Regions from separate parts of the Homo sapiens genome. Here region 1 is linked to region 2. The links come from fine-mapping of genetic effects on plasma protein levels. Region 2 holds a variant in brackets. A gene starts in the other region. All regions are shown on their forward strands.

Region 1 (8,677 bases), not on the chromosome of region 2:
GGAGGTAGGGTTCTGTTAGAGACCTCAGAGGATCTATCTTCTCTCTGGTAAAGTCCTTTAGAAATCTGCACTTGTACATTTCCCCCATTTTTTAATGCTTTTGGGACTGGGATGGAGGGAAGATAAACCACTAAGGCCAGACATGGAGGAGGGCAAACCCAAGATCACCCGATGGACCTCTGGGAGAAAGACACTCACCTTGATGTGGTACACTAAGCGCCAGAAACTGGAGTCTGAGGATCGGTATCGTCCATCAGGGTAGAGCTGCCACATGATAGGCAGCAGGCTTGGGCCTATCTGGGTGGGGGTCATAGGCCTCCCCAGGACGACGTCTTCCCGACGCAAGAGCACCCGTAACTGTAACCTATCCTTTATCTGAGGAGAAGAAAAGGACAGGGCATACTTTCAGGTTCCGCTTGCCAGGGCTTCTCCAGGCGCAGAAAACCGGAATCCCTCCTGCCAGCCATCCACCCATCTGGGCAGGGGTCCGAGTGTGAAATGATGGTCATCACTGTTCCCTGAAGCTCACTTCCTTAGGCCATGCATGCTCCTCTCAGGGACTCTGGCTGGGCCAGGACCACCAGCACACACACGTGTCTAGCCACCCAGACAGGGCCATGAAAGGCACACTTTTTTCTGGCGGGTTGCAGCGGCTCACACTTGTAATTCCAGTGCTTTGGAAGGCAGAGGCAGGAGGATCGCTTGAGGCCAGGAGTTTAAGACCAGCCTGGGTCACAGAGCGAGACCCTGTATCTACAGGAAAAAAAAAAAACAACAAAGAAAGAAAGAGAGAAAAAGAATACTGGCCTTTTCAATGATGTGAGGCAAAATCTGTCCCACAGTTTGCTAGTGGGTTATTTTTTGTGGAGCATGTATCATGATTTTATGAAAAACTGTCTGGTTCGTGGTTTTGGTGTCACGTTGAAGAAGAGATTTCTCAGAGATTTAAAAAAAGAAATCCACTGAATCTTCAAATTATTTCTTCAAATTTTGATTTTAAAAAAGTAAGTATTTAACTTGATTTTTAAAGTAAAAACATATTTAAAAAATTGAAATGCCAATAAAAATGCAGATTTTGTGGTGGTTAAGAGCCTAGAATTCCAACCCCATTACCTACTAGCAATCTTACCTCGGACAAATGTACATTTTTGTGCCTCAGTTTCCCATCTGTAGAGACACAGTCAACACTCAATAATTTTTGATTGCTACTGGACATACGTGTTCTAATATATTTTTTAATTTTTATGCTTTCTTCAGTGTATGTTTGGAGAGAGTTTGAACATTTTTTGACTCTTTTTCATTGAGTAAATCCAAATACTTGTAAAAGACTTATCTATTTCTTTAACAAAAACTTAACATGGATTAAGGACCCATCTTAAGGCATCACACATTAAAAAAGTCAATATTGATTCAATACCGGCGCTTATACTACGACATCACTTGTTAAATTTGTTTTCTAAATAAAGCCCAGAGGTAGTGGAAAATACTTCACACTCTAGGCCAGTGTTTGCTATGCCTGGTTGACCCTAAACTGTTGAGGGTTCTTTTTAAAAATACAGATTTCTGGGACCCACCTGAGATGATTCCGATAATCGGCCATATGGATGAGTCACTTAGAGATACCCATTTTTAAGGATTAGGACCCCGAAGCCCAGAAAATGCCTGCTGTAGTCAACATTATAGTCACACTCCACAGGCACTGGGTCCACCCCTTTGACCGACATTCCTTTGCGGTTTTCCCACCCTTCTTCCCTGCCTGGAGAACTCCTATTCATCCTCCAGAGCCCGGCTCAAAGTGGCTTCATCTGTGGGGATCCTCCCTGCCCCATAGTGAGTGCTCCTTGAGTCCTCGCCCTTCCTAGGGCATCCCAAGCTCCCAGGGGCTGCCCCTGCTGCCTCGCCATCCGCTCCAAAGCTGGCTGTACCTCGATGGTTAAGGGCAGCCAGGCGTGCTGCTTCTCGTCCAAATACACGAACTTCTCCCAGGCCCACAGGCGGTCCGGGTGGTCGGTGACTGCCTCCCCGAGTGTCGGGCACTCGGCCATGGCGTCCTCGGGCCGCCTAAGAAGCAAGAGCCAGAGCCTCTCAAGGCCGCTCGCTGGTCCCTGGGATGTGGGGCCGACCCTTTATATCCGGGCAGCATGCGGCCGCCACCAAGCGGCGGGGCGGGAGGACGGCCTTGGGGCGGGACCCCGGGTCGGGAGAACGACCTTGGGGCGGGGCGTAAGGCAGGATGGGGCGGGGTTTGTGGGGGTCTTGGTGGCAAGTGAGGGTCCCGCGCAGGCGCTACGTCCCGGCCTGACTTGCTCCCTGGAACGGTGGCAGCTCCTGGGAACGCAGACCCGGCCCCAGCTGGCCCGCGCCTTCCTCGAGGCCCCGGCCAGCAGCGACACCGACCGCCGCCCTCTGCTGCTGCTGGAGAGGCACCGGGGTGACCTTGGCCCTTTCTTCTTCTGGAAGACCCCCCCGCTTCCCTCGGCTGCCGGACCGGGACTCTGGGCCTCTGCTGGGAACTCACAGTCGACACCAGGATGCCCAGAGCCAGGACCCACTCCTCATCTTATGGGATCAGAAGAGACCCGCGCGGGCCTGAGTTAGGCCTGGGCTTTCCCGGGTTCCCTGGATCTCCACCAGCCTGTGCCTTTGAGTGTCAGAGTACGTTTTTTGGCAAAGGACAACTCCTGACGCTCCCTCTCCCTCTTCCATACACAAAGCATGCGTTTTCCACAGGTCTGATGTGCTGTGGACATCTAATAGCTATTACAAAATGGAGAATCATGGGTTTTTGCCCTTGGGCTTTGAGTTTACTAGTGAAAGCATAGTTCGAAATGAATACTTAAAAAGAAATCCCTCCTTCCACCCTAAGATCAATGGATTTGAAAAGTGCCTGGTTTATATGATCAAAACCACCCCTCTGTAAATTACAAGCAATAAGGAAAACAATTTCACTTTATTTTGCAGTAACGCATTCCCACTAAGGCAATTAAGAAAGTCATGCACAATGAAAAACATGTGAAACCAGCTCCAGCCTGGTTCAAACATCACCATGGGATGGAGTTTGGTGTCTCATCTTCCAGCTCTTTCCCAGTTCTCTGACCAGGCACTAAGAACATAATTTGTGATCCTTTGAAATATCACCAAAGTGGAAATTAAGAGATCTGATGAGGACATCTGATTCACCTGGCAGCTGGGTATCTGCCTCTTTGCCTATCCAGAGAGCCTAATTCCCAAGAAGGGGCTGAGAGGGCCTAAGGTAGTCGAGACATAATGGGATTTACCAGGAACACAACATAGAAGAGAAAAGCCAAGGGAAGTTGGGGGTGGAGTGAGGGCCCTTGAGCTCAGCAAACCTCTTTTCCACTGTAGCCCTTAGTGGTGTTAATATTTAATATGCAAACTTAAAGGTTTCATGCTGATTTTCCTGTGAATGGCTCTTGACTCCAGACCTAGATAGCCACAGAGCAAGATGACAAGCTCGCTAATAAGCTCTGTTGGGGAGGTCTCAGCCCAGGCCAGAGCTGTGAAGTGAGAAATAAGTCCAGTTTAAATAGTGCTGCTGGGATGGACTTTTGTGGCCAGGGAAGGGGTACCCAGGAGCCAGTGTGGCCACTGACCCAGCCTCATCAATGGCCCTAGGATCCAGAATGCCACAAACAATGGAGCAAGAATCAGATCTGTGTGTCTGGGTAAGCAGAATGTTCTGAGAATATAATTCCTTTTTCCTTCTTTTGTAAGAACAATTTATTTCTTCAGTTTTGCATGAGGGCTTCTTAATATTGAGCAAGAATATACATCATTATTGCGTGAGATTTAGAAAATTATTTGAGAGAGGGTTCCAATAAATGAAAATGAATTAAGGATGTCTGTGGAGTTCATTGGGCAACTTATAGAGCCCTTGAGCTTTTTTAAGTGAACATTCCACAAGAGGGGAAACAGTAGCTATTGCATAGTCTCAGAGCTGTCTCTGAGCCTCCGTGGCATGTTATCTGCCCCATCTAAGGGTTATAAAGGCCATAAGCCTAGCTTTAGAATTTTATGTTCCTTTCCAAGTCTTTGTTAGTCTGATTTCCCTGAGGATAAGCAAATGGATGTTTCACACAGAAAGCTACAGGAAGCAATCATTTTGACAGAATCCTTAATGGATGCGTTCATGTCCTGATTTAGATCTAGTTTTGCCTTTACCACGATCACCTGTGAACTTGACAAATCCTTTGCAACTTGGCCTCAGTGCCATAGTTTTGTAATGAATGGGGCAAAATACCTGCTCTCTAAGCTTGTTTCTAACTCAGTAGGCCCCAATCCTCCTATAACATTGCCTAGTGGGAGGAGGGAATAGTTAAGAAAAGAGATGGACAAAATATATGATGTTAGTTCAGGAATGCCTACAGTTTTTGGTACAGTGGCTGTAGATCAAGGACCCCAGTGGAATTCATGGGAGCCATTCTTCTTGTTTGGGTTCCAAAGAAGGGGTTGAGGAGTAGTCAAGGCCATCAGGATGACCTTGACTCAAAGTGTTGTCCCTGGACCAGCTACAGTAGCATCACCTGGAGCTCGTAAGAATGACAGAATCTGGAGCCTCCCCCAAGACTACTGAGTCAGAATCTGTATTGGAACAAGACCCCCAGGTGATTCACGGGCATGGTAAATGTTGGGCTATATGGAGGGAGGGTCAAGAGGGAGAGATAGGGGGTGTCTGATTCAACACACCAGTGCCCTCCAGATTTCTCCAACTATGACACAGGACTTATATCGGTGTTTGTGTATCATTTACTTCCAGGCTATCTTATTTTCTGCCAAAATCACCTCTAATATATAGAGTGTTTTCCTCTTAAAAGAAAATCCTAGTAACCAAGGTCATCCTCACCAACCCTGGGGTCCTTGATTGTCAATGATTATAGCAAGCTGGAAAGAGCCTATTTAGAGGCTACTTAGGTGTTTAGGCCTTTGGGCCCTATGATGACTGAGCCTAAACCACTAAGAATCACCTGGGAAGCTTTAATGAAACACCTGCGCCTGGATCCCACTCCAAACCAATTACATCAGAATCTCCGAGATTGAGGCTTGAGAAAAGTAGGTGATGCTAACACGTAGGCAGGGTTAAGTACAATTTCTCTAAGATCTGAGTGACTGTTTTTGACGTGTGCACAGATTTATAAATCTAAATAACTACGAAAATGTCAAAGCTATTCTTTCTACCATCAATTCTCATTGTAAACTTCACCCCAACTCCATATTTTACTTCTTTCCCTTTGCCCTACTTTGCTGCTTCCAATCCTTCGTGGTCAGGGATCCATAGCCCTAAGTTTATTGGAATCATAAGGGTCTGAGATCTTGCTAATGTGTAAAACACAGAATCTGTGATATATATGTAGCTATTAAGGCATCCATGCCTGGAGTGTTTTGTTTGTTTGTTTGTTTTTTGAGACAGAGTTTCCCTCTTGTTGCCCAGGCTGGAATGCAATGGTGTGATCTTGGCTCACTGCGACCTCCACCTCCTGGGTTCAAGCGATTCTCCTGCTTCTGCCTCCCGAGTAGCTGGGATTACAGGTATGCGCCACCACGCCTGTCTAATTTTGTATTTTTAGTAGAAATGGGGTTTCTTCATGTTGGTCAGGCTGGTCTTGAACTCCTGACCTCAGGTGATCCTCCCACCTCGGCCTTCCAAAGTGCTGGGATTACAGGCATGAGCCACCGTGCCCAGCCTGTTTTTTTTTTTGTTTTTTTTTTTTTTTTTTTAGTTCCTAGGTCTGGGCCATAGTTGAAATAATTAAGGCTGCTGATCAAGTGAGTTCAGGGTACAAAAGATGTTGTAGCCTTTACTCATAAGGGATGAAATGGTATCTCTAAATTAATGGAGAATCTGAGACAAGGATATTTCAAGTAGAAATTAGGGACTGATCCTACTCTGCCCACTACATAGCTATCATCTCTCTCTTTAAAATTAACAGTTCTAAGGAACTTAAAGCTTCTCCAACTTTAAGGTGTATATGGAGATTTTATTTAAATACAGATTCTAATATGGTAGGGTTGAGGCGATTCTCAAGATTCTGAATTTGTAACATATTCATATCCTCGGAGTTGATACAGGTACTAATGGTCTATAAATCACCTCTGGGTGGCAAGGACCTATACTAACCCCCATGCTACCCTTGATACCCACACAAAACACAAATGAAAAACACAACTCACAACCCCTACTCAAAATGCAGCGAATAGTTGATTCTGCCAAGCTAGCGAGTGACCAAGATGTGATAGAATTGCACTGGACACTTTGAGCTACAACTGTGGTTGCCATTTGCCAGAGGCAAGTTAAAATTGACCTACATTTGTACTGGAAACATTTCTCAATCCTGGGATTACTCCACACCTTGGGTGTTACTGTCCTACTGATGCTATGATGCCTACAGCTTTGTTTTTGTTTTTCTGTTTTGTTCAAAAATGTTTTAGCTATTCAGACCTTTTGTGGTTCCATATGAATTTTAGGATTATTTTTTCTGTTAATGTGAAAGTGTTGTTGGAATTTTGGTAGGGATTGCGTTGAATATGTAGGTTGCTTTGAGTGGGATGAACATTTTAATAATTTTAATTCCTTCAATCTATGAACATGAGATATTGTTCCATTCGTTTGTGTCTTCTTCAGTTTCTGTCATGGGTATTTTGTAGTTTTGCGTGTTCAGATCTTTCACCTCATTGCTTACATTTATTCCTAAGTATTTTATTATTTTTTGTAGCTATTGTGAATGGGATTTTTAAAATTTCTTTTTCACATAGCTCATTATTAGTGTATAGAAATGTTACTGATTTTTGTATGTTGGTTTTTGTATCCTGCAGTTTTACTGAATTCATTTATCAGTTCGAACAGCTTTTGGATGGAATCTTTAGGAGTTTTCTATACATACAAGATCATGTCCTCTACAAACCGAGACAATTTAACTTCTTCCTTTTCATTTGGATGCCTTTTCTTTCTTTTACCTGTTGCTCTGATTAGGATTTCCAGTTCTGTGCTGATTAGAAGCAGTGAGAGTGAGCATCCTTCTCTTGTTCCTGATCTTAGAGAAAAAGCCTTAAACTTTTTACTATTCAGTATGACATTAGCTGTGGACTTGTCATATATGCTTCATTGTACTGAGGTACATTCCTTCTAGACCTAATTTGTCGAGAGTTTTTACCTTGAAAGGATATTCAGTTTTGTCAAATGCCTTTTCTGCATCTATTGAGATGATCATATGGTTTTTGTCCTTCATTCTGTTAATGTGATGTGTTACTTTTACTGGTTTGTGCACGTTGAACTATCCTTGTATCCCTGGGATAAATATCATTTGATAATGATGAATGATCCTTTTGATGTGCTGTTGAATTCAGTTTGCGAGTATTTTGTTGAGGATTTTTACATCTATATTCATCAGGGATATTGGCCTGTAATATATTTTTTTCTTGCAGTGTCCTTGTCTGACTTTAGTATCAGGGTAATGCTGGCCTTATACAATAAATTTGGAAGTATTCCTTCTTCTGCAATTTTTTGGAGCACTTGGGAAGGGTTGGTATTAGTTCTTTAAATGTTTGGTAGAATTCAGCAGTGAAGCATCAGGTTGTGGGGCTTTTCTTTGATGGGAGACTTTTTATTACTGATTCAATCTTCTCACTTGTTATTGCTCTGTTCAGATTTTTTGTTTCTTCATGATTCAGTCTTACTAGGTTATATATGTCTAGGAGTTCGTCCATTTCTTCTAGTTTATCCAATTTGTTGGCACAACATTATTCATAGCAGGCTCTTATGAACCTTTATATTTCTGTGGTATCAGTTGTAATGTTTCATCTTTCATTTCTGATTTTGTTTATTTAGGTCTTCTCTTTTTAGTCTAACTAAAGCTCTATTGATTTTGCTCTTTTCAAAACATCAACTCCTAGTTTCCTTGATCTTTTCTACTGTTTTTCTAGTATATTTCATTTATCTCTGCTCTGATCTTTATTATTTCCATTCTTGTGCTAATTTAAACCTTAATTTCTTCTTCTTTTTCCAGTTTGTGGAGGTATGATGTTAGGTTGTTTATTTAAGATCCTTCTTTTTTGATGTAGGCATTTATTGCTATAAACTTCCATCTTAGAACTGCTTTTGCTACATCTCATATGTTTTGGTATGTTGTGTTTCCACTTTCATTTGTTTCAAAATATTTTTAAATTTTCCTTGTAATTTCTTCTTCAACCACTGGTTGTTTAGGAGCATGTTGTTTAATTTCCACATACTTGTGAATTTTCAAAATTCCTCCTATTGATTTCTAGTTTCATGCCATTGTGATTGGAAAAGATACCTGATGTGATTTCAATTTTTTTAAATTTGTTAACACTTGTTTTGTGGCCTAACATATAATCTATCTTATAGAAGGTTCTCTGTGCTCTTGAGAATATATTCTGCTTATGTTGTATAGAATGTTCTGTATATGTCTGTTAGGTCCATTTTGTCTAAAGTGTAGCTCAAGTTCAATATTTCTGTATTGATTTTCTCTCTGGATGATCTCTCCATTGTTGAAAGTGGAGGTATTAAGTTCCCTTACTATTATTGTATTGCAGTCTATCTCTCTCTTCAGGTCTATTAATATTTGCATTATATATTTAGATGCTCTGAGGTTGAGGGTATATACATTTGTAATTATTTTATCTTCTTGATGAATTGACTCAT
Region 2 (10,040 bases):
ATCACCTGAGGTGAGGAGTTGGAGATCAGGCTGGCCAACATGGTGAAACCCCATCTCTACTAAAAAACACAAAAATTTGCCAGGCTTGGTGGTGAGCGCCTGTAATCCCAGCTACTAGGGAGGCTGAGGCAGGAGAATCGCTTGAGCCTGGGAGGTGAAGGTTGCAGTGAGCCAAGATCGCGCCACTGCACTCCAGCCTGGGTGACAGAGGCCCTGTCTCAAAAATGAAAAAAAAAAAGAATCCTGTTTTTCAAATCTGTTGTTTTTATCCTCTTCAGTATAAGATCCATATTCTTTGCAAGGGCTCGGTGAACAAGTTTGAAGATAAGCTCAGTCCCTTTTAGTAACCATTTTACAGTCCCATATAATTTCAGTGCTTTGCAGTCATGAGTCATCAGTACAAGGAACATAAAAATTGAATCATCTGTAATGGCAGATCTCTGTCCTTTCCCAAGGATATGGAAAGAGTGTTGGGGTACTTTTTCTTTTGTAACAGACTCTATTGTAGATTATATATACATATATATATATGTATATATATATATGTGCGTGTGTGTGTGTGTGTGTGTATATGTGTGTGTATATATATATATATATATATATATATATATATATATATATACATCTTACATATATGGGAGAGAGCCCTGAGATCTAACATATATGCATCTCACACTTGTATTTCCAAAGAATAAACAGGCTCAGCAAAGGTGAGGTGCAGGCCCAGCTAACAGAGCAGCACAGCCCATGCCTTCTGAACCCAAACCCAGCACTTGCAGTCACCATTTGCTTGTTTTTCCAAACTAGGCAGCTGCCTATGAGGTACCATCCTCCACTAAGTTATAATCTTTTATCTAAGGACGTTACAAGGTTTCATATTTACTGTGCTTTTTGACCTCAATGATTGCTCTGAGGAAGCATTTGCAAATAAAGAGGAATTGTCCAACATGGACCCCCAGGCAGCCCCTGGCACATGTCTCCCATGGAAAAGGGGGCTTCCCTGTCAGTCGCTGGACTGTGTTGCAGCTTAACAAAATTTTACCACAACCCAGGTTAAAGAATAACTCTATGAATAGTAGTTCCTTAGATCAGCCCAATACTTCTGCCTTTTCAGACTACTTTCACACACTCCCTCATTTGTTTTTCAAATAGTGTGATGAGGCCAGAAATGAAGGTGCAAGTTCTATCCCCATTTTGCAGATGAGGAGGCTGAGGCCAGAGGAAATGGCATAAAGAGCCAAGATCACTCATTTCATGAGTGGTAAAAAGTCCAGAGAACTGGCCTCTTAATCCCCAGGGCAAGCTCTTGCCTTAACTCACATTAAACGTGGCTTCTGCCTTTGGCAAATAATGGGTTCTTGGAGCTTTGAGTTATACTGTTTCTACATTCCCTCCTAAATGGAAGAATTGAAGATCCCAAGAACACAGGAGGAAAGAATATACCCACCAGATGAAGAGAATAATCAATAAACCTGCAATTCCTAAAAAATATCTTGTGGCCACGACATCTTATGATATTCAGAAAAATGCAATCCAGTGATCAAAGTCATTGCAAAATGATTCCAGTTTTATTTGCATTTGTCATTGAACAATAAAATCAGACAAACCCCAACTCACAATGGACTCCTGTCTTTTCCCCTCCAGCCACATCTGCCTCACAGTTCTCTGCAGTCCTTCCCTTCTCTCAGCCCTCTGGGCTGACCCTCCTTAAAGTCCAAGCCTGGAATTTACTACTCTTCCTCCGTCTCCCACTTTCTGCTCCCCTTGCCCACCCTAACTTCCATCCATGACCTGCTGCTCCTCTCACATGGGTCTGCACCTGCTGCATGCTGGGCACTGTGCCAGGCCTTTACTTGCATCACATCGCCCCCAGCACCCTCCAAGGGAGTGCAGCTACCCTGACTGATGGCCAATTATAGGTGAGGATGCCTGAGAAAACTTCAGTTGAGGTCTAAGTTCACACAGCTGGTCAGGGCAGCCCTGGAATTAAATGTGTCTGTCTCACACCCCCCTCCCTTATGTCGCATCCATGGTCTTTGTTCACTTGGGATCTTTAAACATTTAAATGTGCATTTTTTAAATTAAAAGTATTAGTGTGAAAGCTGTTGGGAGCTAAGTCAGCTTGATGTCTGCCTAGAACTGTAGCTGATATAGAATGGCTCTAAATAAAAGACTATCACATTGATTTGAACCTGCACTTACACCCCACCCTGTATAATTGCAGCCCACTGTGAGCTAATGAGGCTCTCCTGGCTGGGCTGGGAGTAATGCCAATGGTCCTTCCTATTCAGTTCAGTTGCACTGAGGTCCAGTTCTACCACTTGCCAGCTTGGTTGGTGCTGGCCATGATACTTAGACTTTCTCTGTGTCAGTTTCTCCATCTATAAAATGGACATGATCATAGGACCTATGACACAAGATTGTTGTGAGAATTAAACAGTCAATTTACATCAAGCATTTAAAAGGGTGCCTGGAATATAGAACATACTCAATGACTATTAGTCATGTTTACAGTGTAGAGTGAGAATTTCTATGCATGCCTAAATTTTATGCACATATACAATACATATATTCTACGTATAACATGGTTTTCTCCACATTTTTCCTCTCATATTTAACTTATATACCATCTGTGCTCCCTTCTTCTGAGTTACTAAACTTCTTGATTTTCTTAAATTACTTAATTTCTATTTTATCATGTTTGGTTGAGAACCAATTCATTGTAGACTTGGGCAATAATATATTCAAATTTATCAATTAGTGAACAAAATCCTGGCTTATTTGGAACTAGGGAGTACAAAATAAGGTATTTAAAGGACTAGAAGCTGTGGAGCAAAGGCAAAAATGAAGACTTCTTATTTTTAAGTGGGTCTCTGCGTCTCTCTACTTTCCTCAAATGGGGAGTGGAATTCTTTGAACATGCGACTAACCTGGAAATCCATTTCCCGGCTTGTATGTTTCAGTATCTTTAATAGCTTTGTTCCCTCCAGCTGAAAAATAATATCTCCTATCAGCAGCAGTCTAAAGTGTTCCCCAGAGAGTATTCTCCTCTTAATATAAGGTCGCTGTGTTGCACTTAAGATGGCAAAATTCCCCTTGTTATGGCCATATGTGCCAGGGTTAAATGGAGTAGATTTAGAAGCAGTGTGGGTGAGGACTTTCGTTTTCAAATATTTGGCAATTTATTATGCAACTGAATTCATTCCCAAGACTGAGCAGCTAATCAGTCTAATCTTCCATGAAATGTTATTATTAAATATGATGTAATCTAATAGCATTAAGACAATGTAACATATGATACCATTTAGCATCAATAACATGCATGCCACAGAGGCACAGAGGCTGTGCAATGTTTTTTATCAAGCCTTTCATGTGATTGACAGATGGCCTGCGTCCATCCCTCTGACTTCTTAACTGCTCTGATGGCAGGATATGACTTTAGAGGCATTTTAATTCTGCAGGTGTTTTCAAAGGCAGTGGAAAAAACCTTTCACACAGATGGAGGGGATTTCCTTTGTAACATGCATGGAAGCTTTAATGAATGGTTGGGGGAGAGACACACGCATGAATAACTTTGCCTCATTCTGGGTTACCTCTCTAACTTACAGCTGCACTTTTCCAACAAAATTCCAAAAAATCCTGCAGGGCACTGCCTAGAATTCAGCAGCTTCAGTTCACTCACCTAGGTCCCTCCAGCAAGCTTGACAATGTGGCTGTAAAACAGAGGCTCCTGAACTTAGCAGCACAGGAGAATCATCTGGAGAGCTGTCAAAAGTCCCAGTGCTCAGGCTACACCACTTACTAGTTACATTAAAATATGGGGCTGGGCCGGGCACGGTGGCTCACGTCTGTAATCCCAGCACTTTGGGAGGCCGAGGCGGGTGGATCACAAGGTCAGGAGTTCAAGACCAGCCTGACCAACAGGGTGAAACCCCGACTCTACTAAAAATACAAAAGTTAGCTGGGCATGGTGGTGCACACCTGTAATAGCAGCTACTCAGGAGGCTGAGGCAGGAGAACCACTTGAACCCAGGAGGTGGAAGTTGCAGTGAGCCGAGATTGTGCCACTGTACTCCAGCCTGGGCAATACAGCGAGATTCCATCTAAAAAAAAAAAAAATGTGGGAGTGGGAGCCAGGCATTGGTACCTTTCAAGATGCCTCTGAGATGTCAGTGTGCAGCACCATTGGGAACCTCTGTCTTAGCATCTTTTCAGCTGTCTGTACTGGATAAACTTTGCAATCCCCATGTGCATGGCCCTTATTTTGTAAATGTTTTATTTCTTTAAATTACTGTATTTCAACTGAAATTAGTTTAGCATCTATTAAGTGCTAACAATTTGCTAGCTGTTTTCATATTCATTGAAGTCTCCTCTAATCCCCAGAGTGCCCCTAAGAGGTTAGTGTTGTCCTCTTCATGCTGCAGTTGACCGAGCTGAAGCCCAGAGAGCTTTCTTCACTGGAGTAAAACCTCACAGTTGGTTAAGGGGCAGAGTCAGGCTTGCCACAGAAGCCTGCTTCTCGATGCAGTGGGCTGCCCCCACTCTTTA[G/A]CTGCCTTATTTTCCTAGTCTCACAAAATCTGTTATTTTGTACTGTTTATTCTGCTGTTGCCATAGATGTAATTTCCCTTCACTTTGTTAGTCTCTGGGTGTCCTTGATTATATCACCTGCAAGCCAATAAGTCATCACCAACAGAGTCATAAATTACACAGCTGGAAGAGAATTAGGAGATTTATTAGTGCAATTCCCTGCCTGATATGTATTTTCCCCCTAACATTCTGATACTTGCACATAATCAATGTGGGAAGGACACCAAGAAATTGCAGTGTGAATCCTTCTCGTTTCCACTTCTCCCTCACCCAAGTCCTTCCGGTTGGTATCACTACCCGGGGTCAGGCTGAGGCTAGAAGGCTCCAAAAGACTATGTCCAGTCCAGATCCCAGAGATGACATGGGGAACCGGGGACTGAATCTTCCTCCCAACCCTTAAGCACACACCCCTTTCACTAACCTCTCTTCTGCCTGCCTTGTCACCTGATACTTTCAGGAGCAACTCCTATAAGCTCCAAATTTTGAAAATTACTCCTAAGATAAGTGGTTCCTGGAGAAGGCTTTGTGTGGCTTACTGGTCGTGTGGGAAGGTCATGGATATAACCAAGGCAGCCATTGAAGAACCATTCCTCCACCACCCACAGAGGTTTGCTTGTTGCTACTGTGTTGCATTTTGTCTGGGCACCAATTTTGAATAGGGAACCATGCCACAAGGATGTCCTGCTCTCAGAGAAAGGTCCAAGGATGGCAAGTGAAAGCCACTGAGATGAATGAAATTTGCAATCTGCCCACTGGCCCTTTCCTCCCTGGGGGCAAGTTCATGATGGTGGCCTTTCTTATTCCTCCCTGAGGCCAGCACAGTAAGCTGAGGCCATGGCGTTGATACGACTCTGCAAAGATGGTAGGCTATTACACAGAGCCTCATGATCTGTAAATGTTGTGTTCTTGGACTTTGAAATACAATTTAAATCTTATTTTCCTCAACTCCTTGCAGCACACAGGATGGAGCTTCATGCTGGGCCTGTCCCATAAGCCTTACCCACCTCCTAGGAAATAATCTGTGTAAACCAACTTGTGTGCTATCATGGCAAGAATATTCATTATTCTTCACATTCCTTCCTCTGAACTACCTACTTAAGCCTTTCTCTTGAATGCTCGTTTGCCTTTTCTGGAGAGAGAGAGCTTTTATACACACTGAAGAACGGCTTCTTCACTCTTGTGTTTTCCTTTTATCTCCCACTGTCCCTGGTGGAGAAAAGAACAGGGAAGCAGAAGAGTCAGTGGAATTCAAACTAAACTGTTTAAATTCAAATTCTAAACAGACTGTTGTAGAATTAATGCTGGTGTACGTTTGTTTCCAATGGGCAATTTTAGGAAATCATCTGAAATTTACAATGCAGTACATTAATGGTGATAAGAAAGATATCTGATAAAAGTAACAATGCTATAAATGTAAGAGTGTATATTCATTAATATTAGAGTCTGCATTACAGAAATATGTGTGGGATACAGGTCTGCCACTCTGTCAAGACCTGGTATCTTCCTTCATTATGAAACAGAGCTCAGCAGTGAGTCATGTTTGTAAAAGACATGGAAATTTAAAATAGCAGAAAAACATGAACTTGAAATAAATTTTATCGACCCCAGCATAGGGCTGTTATCTAAGTACCTGTGCATCAGCACGCCCCAGGCCTGCACTGTTTCCTTTTTGGACAGCCCAAGTTCCACACCTCATACAGGAAAAAAAAAATTAGACTGCATATTTCTTTATATTTTTCATATTTGGGTGCTAGTTACCATGACAATTTCACAAATCATCATTTTAATTTCCTCTTTTCCTCCTCTCTTAACTCTTCACTTTAGTGCTGCAAATATTCCAGGATATACCGGCAAGGTTCATTTCACAGCCACCCACCCAGCAAATTCTAATATTCCATCAACAACCCCATCACCAGATTCAGAACTGCACCGGTAAGTATGAATCCTATTACTCAATTTGCTCAGATACATTAGGAGGGGAAATCCTAATTGTGGTTATTCCATTAAAGAACAATTAAATAGTAAAAGCAAATTTACATTGTTTTTAAAAATGTGGCATCAAGTCCGAAACAGAAAAAAAGATAATTTTCCATTTTCCTACTGAGGGGAACTTTATTAAGCCTTGTATGTGTTTCCTTTTTGAATCTTACCCAAAATTACACTGAAAACCAGGTTTAGATTAATGTTATTACGAATGTGGCCAAAAGGGGCATATGAAGGTATTTCAGGCGCATTAGAGGAATGGCATCTTTACTTCTTAGACTCACAGCTGTGCACACACATCACCCTTCTGCATGATCATCAGAAGACACATGGAACATACATCAGATACATAGTTACTTCTTGTGAACAGCCACCTTACTTTTATAAAAGAAAAAATTCTGTTGAAAGTCACATATATTTTTAAACCCACATTTTGCAAATTGAAAGCAGGAGATGTGGCCAGGCATGGTGGCTCATGCCTGTAATCCCAGCACTTTGGGAGGCTGAGGTGGGCAGATCACTTGAGGTCAGGAGTTCGAGACTAGCCTGACTAACATTGTGAAACCTTGTCTCTACTAAAAATACAAAAATTAGCCAGTGTGGTGGTGGGCACCTGTAATCCCAGCTATTTGGGAGGCTGAGGCAGGAGAATCACTTGAACCTGGGAGGTGGCGGTTGCTGTGAAATGAGAGTGCCACTGCACTTCAGACTGGGCAACAGAGTGAGACTCCATCTAAAAAAAAAATCCCAGAAAACAGGAAATGTTAGATGCAAGGTTACTGAAGATTCCTTTATTTGAAGCTACTAGTGAGAAGGAGCACATGGTTACTCATTTATTATAACTCAAATTTGAAAGCACCTGATGGAATTCCTGGCATTGCAAACGGTTTTGAAAATGCAAACACAGTCTGAACGATGTCTAGTTGTTGGCCCAGTGCAGATGAATATGCTAGCACAGTAGGAAGGCAGACTAGAGGGACGGCAGTTCGCCCCCAAAAGGAGAGCTTGTTCTAGATCACATTCTTTTGGTAGAGGATTCATTCGTTTATCACACATTTTATTTATTTATTTATTTATTTATTTATTTATTTATTTATTTAAGACAGAGTACTCTGTCACTCAGGCTGGAGTGCAGTGGTGCGATCTCAGCTCACTGCAACCTCTTTCTCCTGGGTTCAAGAGATTCTCATGTCTCAGCCTCCTGAGTAGCTGGAATTACAGCCGTGCACTATCACGCCCAGCTAATTTTTGTATTTTTGGTAGAGACAGGGTTTCCCCATGTTGGCCAGGCTGGTCTCAAACTCCTGACCTCAAGTGATGCTCCCGCCTTGGCCTCCCAAACTGCTGGGATTACAGGCATGAGCCACCGTGCCTGGCCTTATCAAACATTTATTGAGCATCAATTCTGGGCCAGGCACTGTTCAAGACACTGAAGATACAGGGATGAACAGACAAGGTCCCAGCTTTTAGGAGCTTATTTTCTGGTACGAAAGATAGACAGTAAAGAAGCACACAAGTAACTGAAGAAATGAAATAATAATCTTAGCTAGTGAAATGAAAAAGAAAGACTGATGTAGGAGAGAGTTCCTCAGAAGGGGCTTATTGAGCTTTGTGGTCAGGGAGAGCTTTCTGAAAAGGTGACTGTCAGGCCATGGGTACCAAGCCAGAGCTCCTGCTCTGATCAGCTTCTTAAAACTTTCAGAAAGGCAATGGCTATAAATGGGAACAGCTGCCATGCATGGGCCTCTTGGGCTGTGGTTTCTGGTCCACCCAGCTGCTAATCCTTTTATTCACTCACCCATTTGCTGGTGGATTCACATGATCTTTTACTAAGTCAATGCATGTTTACTGTGCTCCAATAAATCACAAGAACTGCTTGCAAGGAGCTCACCATCTCTCAATGAGAAATAAACAATTGCAGCAGAGGATGACAAAAAATGTCTTAACACTAATAATCACTTCTGTTGGCTGAGTGCTTTGTGGGTACTAACTCATGTCACGGTCCCAGGAACCCTGTGAGGAAGGGAATGTTACTATCACCATTTTACAGATAAGGAAACTGAGGCACACACAAGCTGCCTGGGGCTCTGGGAGGGGGCACTAGAGAAGACTTCACAGAGGAGTGGCTCAGGCAGTGACTTGAAGGAGTGGGGCTTGGTCCCACGTAATTGAGGGCAGCAAGCATTCCTCATGGCACAGTAAAGGCACCCTAGGGGGTGGCTCTCAGGCCCCGACTAGCCTGTTGTAGGCCACTGCATACAGACAATTCTAAGCATCCCACAAGCCCTGTGTGCCTGGCCTTTTCTAAGGTGCCTGCCAATAGGAGGCTTTATCAACACGTCTCACTTTCTGGATTGGTAATTTTCTAGCATCTCTCCAGGCCATTTGATGAGAAACATTTTAAAAGGAGGTCAATGGCTTTCTAGGCTGATAACTTGCATTTGTTTTTTTCTCAAGACACATTTTTTTCCCAGTCTCAATATTTGCATGTATTTAAAAAATAAATTCTGTTGTGTATATCATCCTAACAACATGATATTATGATGACATATGGGTATATAGTAAAATGGTTACTATAGTGAACACATTAATATCCGTCATCGCCATAGTTACCCATTTTCCCCTTCCCCCTGTGGTCAGAGCAGCTATAATCTACTCAGTTAGCAAAAATCCTGAATACGATGCACTATGACGCCCTGTAGTCCTCATGATGGATCTTATGTCTCAGGCTTGTTTCTCCTGCGTGTCTGCTACTTAGCATCCTTTGACCTACATCTCCCGTTGCCTCACCCCCCACCGAATCCCTCATAACCACTGTTCTATTCACTATCTCTGTGTATTTCACCTTTTATTTCTTTGTTAGATTCCACATGTAAGTGAGATAGTGCAACATGTTTCTTTCTGTGTCTATTAGCAAAATGACTTCCAGGTCCATCTGTGTTGTGCAAATGGCAGGATCTCCTACTTTTTAAGGCTGAATAATATTCCATTTTCTTTATCCATTCATCTATCAACAGACATCGAGGTTGTGTCCATATCTTGGCTATTGTGAATATGATGCAATGAACACAGGAATGCAGATATCTTTATGAGGTGGTAATTTCATTTCCTTTGAGTGTATCTCCAGAGAAGGAATACGTTATTTTTATGTTTAATTTCTTTAGGAAACTCCATACTGTTTTCCATAATGGCTTCACCAACCTACATTCCCATCAACAGTCTATCATTTCTCTACATGCTCATCAACACTTATTATCTCTTGTCTTTTTAATGGCAGCCATTCTAATTGGTGTGAGGTGATATCTCACTGTGGTTTGTATTTCCCCGATGAGCAATGTTAAGCATTCTTTCATACACCAGATCACCATTTTTGTTGTCTTTGGGGACATGCCTGTTCAGGTCCTTTGCCCATTTTTTAAATTGGGTTATATGTTTTCTTGCTATTGAGTTGTATGAGTTCTTTATAAATT

Direction of the effects. Positions count from the first base shown, and alleles are read on the strand shown. Strength reflects both the effect of a copy and how common the allele is.
For the plasma level of the protein whose gene starts at base 2,104 in region 1, G is the high allele of the variant in region 2 and A is the other (weak association).

The links. PIP is the posterior inclusion probability: the model's chance that the variant is causal. The UK Biobank Pharma Proteomics Project read protein levels with antibody pairs (Olink). The fine-mapping took linkage between variants from a reference panel, not from the people measured, so its PIPs are less certain.
Region 1: TCL1A starts here. The variant in region 2 is fine-mapped to the plasma level of the TCL1A protein (UK Biobank, PIP above 0.99).

The regions. Positions count from the first base shown.
Region 1 is chr14:95,712,022-95,720,698 of GRCh38, forward strand. It overlaps TCL1A (TCL1 family AKT coactivator A), which reads right to left and starts at 2,104. Exons shown (of 4, transcript NM_021966.3): 1 at 1,926-2,104; 2 at 199-375. The coding sequence starts at 2,045. LOC107984703 (a long non-coding RNA gene) reads left to right here and starts at 3,462. Exons shown (of 3, transcript NR_148060.1): 1 at 3,462-3,686; 2 at 5,450-5,547. RefSeq lists enhancers at 165-264, 305-464, 505-724, 1,839-1,888 and a silencer at 2,119-2,358.
Region 2 is chr7:50,145,039-50,155,078 of GRCh38, forward strand. SPMIP7 (sperm microtubule inner protein 7) reads left to right here. Exons shown (of 9, transcript NM_001161834.3): 8 at 6,412-6,519. Among named protein-coding and RNA genes, the nearest start is that of SPMIP7, 54 kb to the left of the region's middle. RefSeq lists a silencer at 749-798. The variant G/A (reference allele first, on the strand shown) is at 4,549.